2 linked regions of the Homo sapiens genome follow. The protein of the gene in region 1 purifies or fractionates together with the protein of each later gene. This does not show direct contact. Each region holds a gene or a part of one and is shown on either strand. Other genes may lie near its edges.

What was found. Proteins that work in one complex are often made in the same cells at the same time.
Region 2: the proteins of PARVB (region 1) and PFKFB2 fractionate together in Homo sapiens (co-fractionation; one large-scale study listed by BioGRID). This does not show direct contact.

What each region holds. Positions count from the first base shown.
Region 1 is NC_000022.11:44,027,302-44,030,801, forward strand, and holds part of PARVB (beta-parvin), read left to right. Parts: intron 1-3,500. UniProt on the Homo sapiens protein: Adapter protein that plays a role in integrin signaling via ILK and in activation of the GTPases CDC42 and RAC1 by guanine exchange factors, such as ARHGEF6. Is involved in the reorganization of the actin cytoskeleton and formation of lamellipodia.
Region 2 is NC_000001.11:207,056,275-207,059,774, reverse strand, and holds part of PFKFB2 (6-phosphofructo-2-kinase/fructose-2,6-bisphosphatase 2), read right to left. Parts: intron 1-3,500. UniProt on the Homo sapiens protein: Synthesis and degradation of fructose 2,6-bisphosphate.

The sequences.
Region 1 (3,500 bases):
GTCCAGTGGGCCAGGATGGAGGTCGGGGACAGCCCAGCTGCTGCTGGAAGTCCTCAGAGGCGGATGGCCGGCCCTGGCCAGTGTGGAAGAGGTCGGGTGGAGTGCTCCACACATTTGCCACAAGAGGCCTGTTCTGTGCTGCACCAGGCACTGGACCTCAGGCGCCACTGCCCAGTGGCCAGGGTCAGGTTTCTCAGAGACAGCTGAAGGCAGCGGGGCGAGAGCAGCCAGTCTGGAGGTTCTGTCCCTCTTTTCTGAGCAACACATTCAGGAAGTTTCTATCCCCTGATTACCTTAAAAAATATGTATGTGTGGGCCAGGTGAGGTGGCTCACGCCTGTAATCCCAGCACTCTGGGAGGCCGAGGTGGGTGGATCACCTGAGGTCGGGAATTCGAGACCAGCCTGGTCAACATGGTGAAACCCCATCTCCAGTAAAAACGCAAAAATTAGCCGGGCATGGTGGCGTGTGCCTGTAATCCCAGCTACTTGGGAAGCTGAGGCAGGAGAATCGCTTGAACCTGGGAGGTGGAGGTTGCAGTGAGCTGAGATTGCCTCACTGCGCTGCAGGCTGGTCAACAGAGTGAGACTCCATATCAAATAGAAAAAAAAACCATATATATATATATATATATATATATTCATGTGTGTGTATATATATTCACATATATATATTGACGTATATTTTTAAAGCAGTTTTAGGTTTACAGCGAAATCTAGCAAAGAATACAAAGTGTCCCCACCTATCCCTTCTCACCTCCATCAGTGCCCCCCGGCTGTGTGGTAGAGTCGTGAGCCAACGCTGAGACATCATTATCTCCGCAAGCTCATAGTTTACATTAGGGGTTGCTCTTGCCGTTGGACATTCTGTGGCTCTGGATGGATGTAGAGTGACATGGACCCACCATTACAGTCACCTCTGGAGCAGCGTCACTGACCCCAGAATCCTCTTTCTGCTGCCTATGCATCCCTCCGTTTCCCCAAATCCCTGGCAACCACGGATCATTTTTTTGTTTTGTTTTTTTGGTTTTTGTTTTTGTTTTTTTTACTGTATCTGTGTTTTTGCCTTTTCCAGACTATCATCTAGTTGTGATCATAAAGTGTACAGTAGCGTTTTCAGATTGGCTTCTTCCACTCAATGATATACATTGAAGGCCCTTCCATGTCTTCTCAGGGCTTGGTAGCTCATTCCTTTTTTGACTGAATAATATTCCGTTGTCTGGATGTGCCAGTTTGTTGATCCATTCACCTGCTGAAGGACATCTTGGTTGCTTCCAAGTTTTGGCAGTTATGAATAAAGCTGCTGTGTACATCTACGTGTAGGTTTTTGTGTGGAGATAAGGTTTTAATTCATTTGAGCTCAATTGCTGGATCGTATGGTAAGAGTGTGTCTCGTTTTGGAAGAAACTGCCAAACTCTCTTCCAAAGTGGCTGTGCCACATTTATTCACCGGTGGCGAACGAGAGTCCTGGCTGCTCTGCATCCTCACCAGTATTTGGTGGTGTCAGTGTTCTGGATTTTGGAATTCTGTTAGGTGTATTGTGGTGTCTTGTTGCTGTTTCAATTCGCATTTCCCTGATGAGGTATGAAGTGGAGCATCTCTTCAGATGCTTATTTGCCATCTGTGTATCTTCTTCAGTGAAGTGTCTATTAAGGTCATTGGCTCATTTGTATTTTATTTATTTTTATTTTTATTTTATTTTTGAGATAGGGTCTCACTGTAGCCCAGGCTGGAGTGCAGTGGCACGATCCTGGCTCACTGCAGCCTCAATCTCCTGGGGCTCAAGTGATCCTCATGCCTCAGCTTCTGGAGTAGTTGGGACTACAGGCACATACCACCATGCCCAGCTAATTTTTCTATTTTTTGTAGAGATGGGGTCTCGCTATGTTACCCAGGCTGCTCTCAAACTCCTGGACTCAGGAGATCCACCTGCCTTGGCCTCCCAAAGTGCTAGGATTACATGCGTGAGCCACAGTGCCCGGCCTTGGCCTATTTTTAAATCTGCTTGTTTGTTTCCTTACTGTTGAGTTGGAAGTGTTCTTCATATATTTTGGATACAAGTCATGTGTTTTGCAAATATTTTCTCCCAGCCAGCGGCTTGTCTTCCCTGTCTCTTGATCCTGATATCTCCTAAGCATTTGATGTAGAGTTAATGATTAATGAGCAAGATATTGAGACCTCATCAACTAGATCTAAAGAAATCACTAGGCCAGACACATAATCCCAGCACTTTGGGAGGCTGAGGCAGGTGGATCACCTAAGGCCAGGAGTTTGAGACCAGCCTGGCCAACGTGGGGAAACCCGGTCTCTACTAAAAATAGAAAAATTAGCCAGGCGTGGTGGCTCACGCCTGTAATCCCAGCACTTTGGGAGGCTGAAGCGGCAGATCACCTGAGGTCAGGAGTTTGAGACCAGCCTGGCCAACGTGGTGAAACCCCATCTCTACTAAAAATACAAAAATTAGCCGGGCGTGGTGGCACACACCTGTAATCCCAGCTACTCAGGAGGCTGAGGCAGGAGAATCACTCGAACCCGGGAAGCAGAGGTTGCAGTGAGCTGAGATCGCGCCACTGCACTCCAGCCTGGGAGACAAAGCGAGACTCTGCCTCAAAAAAAAAAAAGAAAAGAAAAGAAATCACTAGGTAGCTGCGACATTGAACTGAAGGTTGAAAGTATTAAGTTTCTTTGTGGACTTTAAATAACCTTCAGGAGAGAAATCTCAAAGCTCTAAACCAGCAACCGAGAATTTCCTTCAGGGCATCCATCTTTTACACGGAGCCATCAGTTGTGTAGATGATGGGTTGCCCCAAAACACTAAGACGCACCAGTGAAGGGAGGGGAGCTGTGGCAGGGGGGCCTGCACTGCCCCCGCCTTTCCCCCCAGCAACGCCTGGGCTGGGAGCTGGGGGTGGGTGAGACCCTGGCTCAGGCCCCACTCAGGACAGTTTGAGGGACAGGCAGATGGGGGGACTGAGCCATGGGGGTCTCACCACCCAGACTTGGGGTTTTGGGCCTCCCTGGAGGAAGTGGTCCTGGCTGAATGTCTAGGATGGATGTAAATTAGCCCAGGGAGGGGGAGGGGGCTCCTGAGGAGACCCCCAGGCAGGCTCCCAGTGGCTGAGCAACGGTGCAGCCTGTGGGCTGTGGCCAGCCCTGGTCGGGGGCTGGAGAGGTGAGCAGCCCTGGCGTCCCACAAACACAGGAGCTTGGAACCCTTGCTGGGGCTTGGCAGGGGTGGCCGATTTCAGTGGTGCTTTGGGGAGTGGGGAATGGACGGAATGGGGGAACGGCGGGGAGGCAGGCTGGCAGGAATGTGGCACGGGGCACAGGCAGTGCCCCGAGGAGGTGGCGTGGGTGGGCGCAGGCGTGGCTGTGATTTCCACGCTGTTTTCTAGCGGGCTGCAGCCCCTCTGATGCTGAAATGAAAAAGGACCCAGATCCTTGTTTGTGGGAGGGGTGGGAAAGGATTTGCAAGGAGTGTGGTCTCTTTTGGACGATTTT
Region 2 (3,500 bases), on another chromosome or scaffold:
GTAGAGAACCACCCTCGGAAGGAAAAGTTTCCTAAGGGTGTTTGGCAAGAAGTACTCAGAGTGACCCTAGTGGTGAGGAGGGAGAAATGGAGGCCCAGACCTGGGGTCAGAGGGCTTGGCTTTTAGTCCTTTACCCACTGCACACATGGAAAATTCCTGAGTCTCAGCAGGAGCCCCTCCAAGGTAGGTAAAGGAGCAACATAAGTGATTTTCATCTGTGTTCAAATAGGGAGCTTAAAGGCAAGCAAACTGTACCCTGAAGCCTCAGCTGGCATTAATCCCTGATCACTGGCCCCTAACAAGCAGATAGCCTCTGCATGGGATCAGCTGTCTCAGGTTTAAGTAGTAAAATCCCCTGAGTCTTCACTTTCTCCAGCTCGGCTCAATGCCTGCTCTCAATCCCCCATGATTTGGCTCATTACCTGCACTTCTAGGCCTGCTTTGTCCGCACCTTCCAGCCCATTAGGCACTTCCCCCGAAGGTCCTATTACCCTCCCTAAAGTTTAAAATGAACTGATACTTGGGAGCTGCTCTGAAGGCAACCAGGGAACCAGCTGCTCTTGTTTACCCATGTGGACAGAGAATGCTAAGAACAACAACAACAAAAAACTGCATCCACTGGGACCTCCCAAGAGCCCTCCAGCAACGCACCTCTCGCCTCTGTCCAGAATACACTTAAGCACACCTGCTACAACCAGGGCTTCTCATTTTCTGGAGTACAAAACTAAACCACACTTCCTATCTCAAATTACCACACTGGCAAAAGTAGGAACATTCTGTCCTGCCTGTTAAAAAACAAAACCACCTGCCACTGCCACCTGATTAATTTCAGAGACAATGTAACCCATCTCTTGATAGACAATGGAAAACTGTTTCAATCCTGAAATTCTCTTCCACCTTCTTTAAGCCAGGTTCAACTCCTTTTCTTAAACTTAAACTCATTTTCCTTTCATAAACTTGCTTAGATAAAATGAAGACTTGAGGCTGGGCGCAGTGGCTTATGCCTGTAATCCTCACTTTGGGAGGCCAAGTTGGGTGGATCGCCTGAACCCAGGAGTTTGAGACCAGCCTTGGCAACATGGTGAAACACTATCTCTACTAAAAATATAAAAATTAGCCAGTCTCATAACCCGGTCTCAAAATAAATAAATAAATGTATTTTAAAAAAAAGATTTACAAAAAAAATGAGGACTTGATAACTTCCCTCGTGTAAATGGAAAAACTCAAGCCTGGAGAAATTAAGAGCTTTGCCCATGGTCCCACAATAGACAGTCAAGGTCAGGGTTCTGACCAGTCTCCTGATCTCATGACTGCCCATTCAGTCCCAGCTGCCAGCTCCTGTGCCTCATGTCAGCACTTGACAAAGGTTCCCTCACGGTAAACACAACTTGCTCTCCATTCTAATCCTGAAGGATGGTCTAGGAGAGCAATGGTTCCCAGCCTTTTCAGGACCCAGGACGTCTTCTTTTATTGGCTCTAAAGAGGCCTAATATTTAGAAATATGCTGCCCATAAAGCATGTTTCATTAGTGACATTTTATCTTTATTCATCAGAAGTCAGAACTGCTGATTATCTCCTGCCAGTTGACAGGCATGAAATAACCAAGTTCGTATAACTACGGTCAAACACTAAGAAAGCTGATGTTTCAGTTAACCACTATGGCTATAGTTGATGCTGCCCAATTTCCATCAAATATCTTAAAATATTGAAAACAGCTTACAATATAGAACTTCTTAGGAGAGCAAATTAGTAATACTGATGAACATTTCCAATGTGTCTATCTTTTCTATTATTTCTGTAGGAAAAGTTGCTGTCACAAATGTGCAAAGGTGTACGTGTAAGAATGGTCACTGCAGCACTCTTTGTGATGATGAAAAACTGGAAACAATTTAAATACCTATCCGTGGAAAGCTGGCATATCCATACAATGCAGAATGAGGTAAATCTGCATTTATCAACATTAAAAGGATGTCCACAAGACAGTAACTTATTTAAAAAAATAAAAAAGGAAATGGCAGCTGAACAGAATATGAACAATATGAACCTACCTTTATTAATAGGATATACCAGAATAAGATGTCTAAAAGAATCAAATTTGGAAGAAACAGGAGTCTTTTACTTTTCGCTTTCTAAATCCTTTCTGTAGTTTGAATTTTTTATGAACATACATTGCTTTTGTATTTAGGGAAAGGTACATGGAAGAATTTGTCTGTTCCAGAACTACTCAAAAAAAAAAATTAAAAAGAAAAAAAAAAAGCATGTAGATTTCTCCATTTCTGCTTTTTTTTTTTCCCCCTGAGATGGAGTCTCACTTTGTCACCCAGGCTGTAGTGCAGTGGCGCGATCTCGGCTCACTGCAAGCTCCGCCTCCCGGGTTCAAGCCATTCTCCTGCCTCAGCTTCCCGAGTAGCTGGGACTACAGGCGCCCGCCACCATGCCCGGCTAGTTTTTTTTTTTTTTTTTTTTTTTTTTGTAGTTTTTTTGTATTTTTAGTAGAGACGGGGTTTCACCATGTTAGCCAGGATGGTCTTGATCTCCTGACCTCATGATCCACCCTCCTCGGCCTCCCAAAGTGCTGGGATTACAGGCGTGAGCCACCACACCCGGCCCTCCATTTCTGCTTTCATAAGCCCTGAAACCAGTCCTCTGAGCACCGTAAAGGCACCTCGGCCAGTAGCCCCTCTTCGCCCCATCCCTGGAGCAGTTGAAGTCCCAGTAATGCTCCTTCGGAGGTTTTGGCTCCCTAAAGTCATTCTTCAGCCCTGAAATCCTCAAGCCCAGTCACTTCCCGGAGTCAAAGTTAGCCAACACAGGTGTAATGAGCAGCAAGGGAACAACGGTTAAGCTATTAATAAAGCAGCCGCTGATGTGAACACTAAGCTGCCAGGTGAACCAGCTCCAAAGTACAGCTCTATAGCAGAGGAAAAGGAAGTAAGTTAACACATATACTCATAACTTTATTTTCTCCTTTGACTATGTCTGCAACAGTCTCACAGCCCGACTGTGACGTGAGGAGAGAATAGGGTAAATAAATCACAGTGGCTTTAGGACACCTTCTTCTTCTTAGAGAAGAAAAAGGCATTTAGAGAAACTAGAGTATGGAAAAAAAGAGATTAGAGCCCAGAGCAGGAATTAGAGTCTAGAAGACAGGAAAGAAACCAGGGATTACTGCTTCCCTGACTTGAAAGCCCTCAAGGCAAAGGAACTACAGAAGAGTTAGGAAAGCAGGTAGAAGAGATTCCTACCATGGAGAAAAAAGCAAAGCTAGAAGGACTGACACATGGCATCGTGTAGTCAGAGACTCCCACAATTATCGATCCTGCCCCCCAGCCCCAGCTCTCTTTTGGATCAAGCACCCTAGTAACATTAGTGTACCTCCCTGTAAGAGGTGCATCCTAGATCCCCAAATCTGGGTTACAATATTGTCAAATAAGAGAAGAAAACATTTTTTACTGAAAAAATAATTATTCACAGCCCTCTTTTAAATAGTGAGCTTCCAA